Regions from separate parts of the Homo sapiens genome. Here region 1 is linked to region 2. Evidence: fine-mapped expression QTL. A gene starts in region 2. The other region holds a variant in brackets. All regions are shown on one strand. Distances are between the middles of the regions. Region 1 overlaps PAFAH1B1 (platelet activating factor acetylhydrolase 1b regulatory subunit 1). Region 2 holds the start of PAFAH1B1 (platelet activating factor acetylhydrolase 1b regulatory subunit 1).

Evidence for each region. PIP is the estimated chance that this variant, and not a neighbour inherited with it, causes the effect. A credible set is the group of variants that fine-mapping cannot tell apart.
Region 1: its variant is the best candidate, but not a certain one, in a credible set for the expression of PAFAH1B1 in whole blood (TOPMed, PIP 0.74).

What each region holds. Positions count from the first base shown.
Region 1 is chr17:2,624,275-2,627,080 of GRCh38, reverse strand. The region is part of intron 1 of PAFAH1B1 (platelet activating factor acetylhydrolase 1b regulatory subunit 1); the gene reads right to left. Among named protein-coding and RNA genes, the nearest start is that of PAFAH1B1, 32 kb to the right of the region's middle. The variant T/C (reference allele first, on the strand shown) is at 1,544.
Region 2 is chr17:2,592,390-2,595,195 of GRCh38, reverse strand. It overlaps PAFAH1B1 (platelet activating factor acetylhydrolase 1b regulatory subunit 1), which reads right to left and starts at 1,542. Exons shown (of 11, transcript NM_000430.4): 1 at 1,190-1,542. RefSeq lists silencers at 694-743, 804-863, 1,274-1,503, 1,554-1,773 and an enhancer at 1,608-2,336.

The DNA of each region.
Region 1 (2,806 bases), 32 kb before region 2:
TTGGATGGCAAAAGGAACAATCAGCAGAGTAAACAGACAACCCACAGGGTGGGAGAAAATCTTCACAATCTATACATCTGACAAAGGACTGATATCCAGAATCTACAATGAACTCAAACAAGTCAGTAAGAAAAAACAAACAATCCCATCAAAAAGTTGGCTAAGGACATGAAGAGACAATTCTCAAAAGAAGATATACAAATGGCCAACAAACATATAAAAAATTGCACCCAGGCGGGGTGGCTCACGACTGTAATCCCAGCACTCTGGGAGGTCGATGCGGGCAGATCACAAGATCTGGACTTCAAGACCAGCCTGGCCAATATGGTGAAACCCTATCTCTACTAAAAATACAAAAATTAGCCGGGCTTGGTGGCACGCGCATGTAATCCCAGCTACTTGGGAGGCTGAGGCAGTTGAATTGCTTGAACCAGGGAGTCAGAGGTTGCAGTGAGCCAAGATCGCGCCACTGCACTCCAGCTCTGGGCGACAGAACAAGACTCCGCCTCGGGGGGGGGGGGGGGGGGAAGAAAGGTGATGCCGGTTCAAGTTTGTCATCAACTCTATAACCTGAGTAATTAATCTAAATTTTCTACATAGTAGCTAACATCTAAGGCACCCTTTAACTCAGATTATTTCAGCCTGTGAATTTTCTAACTTTAACCTTTCCAACCTTTAACATGTATTTTTGCTATCAGAAAGCACAAGTATATGATTGAGTTATCATACTTATTTTAAGAATACAATTTTACCTTTCCAGTTGCCTTTTAATGGTTAACACATAATCGCAAAATACCACATGAAAACAGAAATAATTTTTTTTTTTTTTGAGACGGAGTCTCACTGTCGCCCAGGCTGGAGTGCAGTGGCGTGATCTCGGCTTACTGCAACCTCTGCCTCCTGGGTTCAAGCGATTGTTTTGCCTCAGCCTCCCGAGTAGCTGGTATTACAGGTGCATACCACTATGCCTAGCTAAATTTTTTTGTATTTTTAGTAGAGACAGGGTTTCACCATGTTGGTCAGGCTGGTTCCCAACTCCTGACCTCAAGTGATCCACCTGCCTTGGCCTCCCAAAGTGCTGGAATTACAGGCATGAGCCACCACGCCTGGCTTTTATTAACGTTTTTCTGTTTTTCTTGAGACAGGGTCCTCACTCTGTCACTCAGGCTAGAGAGCAATGGCATGATCGATCATAGCTCACTGCAGCCTCTAACTCCTAGGCTCAAGAGATCCTCCTACCTTAGCCTCCTGAGTAGCTGGGACAACAGATGCATGCCACCATGCCTAGCTAATTTTTTCTTTTTACCCCCAACCTCCGCTAGAGACGGGGTCCCGCTATGTTGCCTAGGCTGGTCTTTAATTCCTGGGCTCAAGCGATTCTGTCACCTCGGCCACCCAAAGTGCTGAGATTACAGGAAAGAGCCTCCATGCCCAGCCTCTAATAAATGGTTCTTAAATGGAGTAAACATTTTTTAAAGAAAGAGTTTAGAATATTTTGCAACGAACAATCTACATTAACCAACAGTACAAATAAATCAGGCAA[T/C]ATTTTCATACTACCTGGTATAGAAGTTCTTAACCTTTTTTGAGGTTACTGGACTCCTTTGAGAATATAATGAAAGCTAAGATCTTTCCTCTCAAAGAAGCACATATGAAAATAAACAAAATATTGCATGTATTTTAAGGGGGTTCACAAATCTTTCCAAAGTCAAAATAACGAATAAGAAGATTTAATATTTTTGAAATGTATTTTGGCAGTATTCCAATATTCTTTTAAGCTACTTGCATATATGACAAACAAAATTCAAAGAGTCTGATTTTTTCATTTGCATGTCAATATCCAGACTTTCTTAGACTGATATCAAGGACACTGTTGCTTAAGCACTAGAAACAGAGGCTTTAGTATGCTTTTGGAATGCAGAATTCTTAAGCATTCTCTAGTCTAATACTATATCCACGTATCTGCTATCCAATGCAGCATCTAAGACAACAATGTGTTTATTGCTAGGGTAAGTACCCCACCACAAAAAGAGAAAGTGGAAGAGTTAAAAAAAAAAAAATAGAAAGTATAAATAATTATATGTTAACAGTAGAGGCGCAATGACATGAAAATGGAAATCATCGGATTTATTATCAGATGTAGAAGGAAGAAATAAAGACTTATCCGGTAATTCATCAATTATCAATGGTTCCTAACCTCAAACTGTCACTTGCCAAAGCTTTATTTAAAAGGTCAGCAGAGGCCGGGCACAGTGGCTCAAGCCTGTAATTCCAATATTTTGATGGACCGAGGCATGCAGATCGCTTGAGCCCAGGAGTTCAAGACTAGCCTGGGCAACACAGAGAAACCAGGTGATATGGTTTGGCTGCGTCCCCACAGAAATCTCAACTTGACTTGTATCTCCCAGAATTCCCATGTGTTACGGAAGGGACCCAGCGGGAGGTAACTGAATCACGGGGCCAGTCTTTCCTGTGCTATTGTTGCGATAGTAAGTCTCACAAGATCTGACAGGTTTATCAGGGGTTTCCATTTTTGCTTCTTCCTCATTTTTCTCTTGCCCCTGACATGTAAGAAGTGCCTTTCACTTCCTATCATGATTCTGAGGCCTCCCCAGCCATGTGGAACTACAAGTCCAATTAAACCTTTTCTTGTTCCCAGTTTCGGGTATGTCTGTATCAGCAGCAAGAAAACGAACTAATACAGTAAACTGGTAACAGTAGAACGCGGAATTGCTGAAAAGATACCCGGAAATGAGGAAGTGACTTTGGAAGTGGGTAACAGGCAGAGTTTGGAACAGTTTGGAGGGCT
Region 2 (2,806 bases):
TCTCTATTTGTCCGGACTGCCACTTAAGGAAAGAGGGAGGGGGGACCTTGGCATGACATCGCCCATTGAGAACGAGACCACAAATCTGGTCCTCCTCTTCAAAGGCGTATTTTCTTAACCAAAAGACTGATATAAATTGGGCCCAAACCCCAAAAGAAAATTTCCTGCCCTCTTCCCAAGGAGTTTCTTGCTAAGTCACTGAAGAAAGGTAGCATAACATATAAAGCTATGGTACCTTGCTCTCTCCTACTAAATACGGAAAACCTCTTCCCCTCTACTGCTACGTTTAGAGGTGCAGAGTCAAAATGTGTCGACCACCTCAAAGGCATTTTCTCATGTGGGAGGCTAAAGAGGGTAAATATGCAGAGGCACTGCGTTTCCCAAAGGGGCAGGGAGATGAGATTAGACGAAGGGGAATGGCAGGGAGCCTCGAAGCTGAATGTTAACAGCATCAAAAGGCAACTCCCGACCGAGGAGCCGGTGGCAGAAAGAAAATCCTGCCAGATTCGGTGGGTGGATGCTGCGGATTGCTCGGTGGGCCGGGCTGCCTCTCCTCGGCGGGTGCTGAGGCTGGACCGCCGCACCGGGGGCCAGGGAGACGGTGGGCCACCCTCCGCTGGTCAACCCCATCTTAAGGACCAGTCGGGGACGGAATGCCTGGAAGGCCCTATGAGTGCCCCGGCGGCGCGGGGCTGAGCCGGTCCCCGAGCCGATAACTGAGGGTGGGGTGGGGACTGCGGTGCTCGTCTCCGCGGCCGGGGAGAGCAGGGCCGATCCTTTTCCCCAAGATCAGAGAGCTACCTGGTCCCCACGCCCTTCCAACCCAAGAATACTTTTCTTGCTAAGTCACCGAGGGAGGAGGGCGATCCCTTCTTGGGGAGGGCCGCGGGGCGGGGGTCGCAGAGGCGCCGGCAGCCCCCAAAGCCGGGCCCGGGAGGAGAGGAGCGAGGGCAGCGCCCTCCCCGGACAGTCCCCCTCCTCCGGGTCTCTCACTCAACGGCCGTCGCGGCCGCCATTTTGAGAGCGAGGAGAGAAGAAGAAGGAGGAGGCGGCGGCGGAGGCAGGGGGAGGGGAGAATGGGAGGGAGGGGACCGGCGCAGCCACATCGTCAGGCCGCCGGGTCCGGCCTGCAGCCGCCCGGGCGCGGTGGAGGAGACAGAGGGGAGGGCGCAGACCCGCGCCGCCTTACCGGAGCGCTGCACCGCCGCCTCCGCAGGGCCTCTTCCGTCCTTCACTCCCATCCACCGGCGGGGGAGGGGGAGGGAGAGGGGAGGGAGGAAGGAGGGAGGGAGGGAAGGAGGGGGGAGGATGGCGCGCTGGGCCCGGGCCCGGGGAGGGGGAGGGGAGGGGAGCGGGCGGGCTCCTCAGCCGTTCCGGGGCTCGAGTCCAAGCTCGGCGCTCGCGGTTTCTCTCGCTCGCGCCCGAGCGCTCCCCTCCTTCTCCTTCTCGCTCCCTAGACTCCCGTGTCGCTGCTCCTCCGCTCGCTCACTCGCTCTCCCGGCCGCCGGACTCCGCCGCCGCCCCGCCGCTCCAGCTCCGTCTGTCACAGGAGCTGCCCCAACGCCCTGACGTCACCGCGCCGCCGCCGCCGCCGCCGCCGCCGCCCCAGACCCGCCAGGAAGAGGGAGGGGCGGGCGCCGGGAGCGGAGGAGGGGCTGCGGCGCATGCGCCGGGCTGGGCCGGGCCGGGGCCGCGCTGCCTTCTAGCGGGCGGGCGGCTGAGCGGTGCCACCCGGCCGGCGGGCGAGTCTGCGTGCGAGGTGCTGCTTCTCACGCTCCGCACGCTTCTGTTAACCTTGGGAGAGGCTCTTTTTTCCCAGCCCCTCGTCTGACTTGCGGCCCCTTCTGAACTCTGGCTCTGCTCACCTCGCTGCCCTGCTTTTGCGCTCATGCGGCCGACCGCGGCGTCCCGTTGGCACCGTGTGTGGCGGGCCCCGGGAGGCGCGAGAGGCAGCGGGGCCCGGCCACCTACCGCCCCTTTCTGCCTCCGGCCTCCGAGATGATTTCCCAGTTTGGGGGGGAATGAGGGAGGGGAGTAGGCTGGCTGGCTTGGGAGGAGGAGCTGTTGAGGTTAAAAGGCAGATGGAATGCTGTCATTGTCTTGATTTGTATTATAGATTCTTAATTGGGAGGACTCGCTTTTGGATATGATTCAGCTATTCTTCTCCTTAGTCACACACAGACATCAGAGTCTCTCCAGGTCTCGAAACGGATGCCCAAAGAAAGGCCTGGAACTGTATCCCTATAAGGGATGTCTGTGTGTGTTTGCTAAATTATGGATTGAAATATTGATGACAAGAGTCGTCTTGGGGATTTGTAGTTAATTTATTCCACACAGATACCTATGATTTTTCTTTTCTTTTCCTTTTTTTTTTTTTTTTTTTTTTGAGACGGAGTCTCGCTGTGTCGCCCAGGCTGGAGTGCAGTGGCGCGATCTCGGCTCACTGCAACCTCCGCCTCCCGAGTTCAAGCGATTCTCTGCATCAGCCTCCCGAGTAGCTGGGAGTACAGGCACTTGCCACCACGCCCAGCTAATTTTTGTTTTTTGTTTTTGTTTTTGTTTTTGAGATGGAGTCTCGCTCTGTCGCCCAGGCTGGAGTGCAGTGGTGCAATCTCCACTCACTGCAGGCTCCGCCTCCCGGGTTCACGCCATTCTCCTGCCTCAGCCTCCCGAGTAGCTGGGACCACAGGCGCCCACCACCACGCCCGGCTAATTTTTTTGGTATTTTTAGTAGAGACGGGGTTTCATCATGTTGGCCCGGATGGTCTCGATCCCTTGACCTCGTGATCCGCCCGCCTCTGCCTCC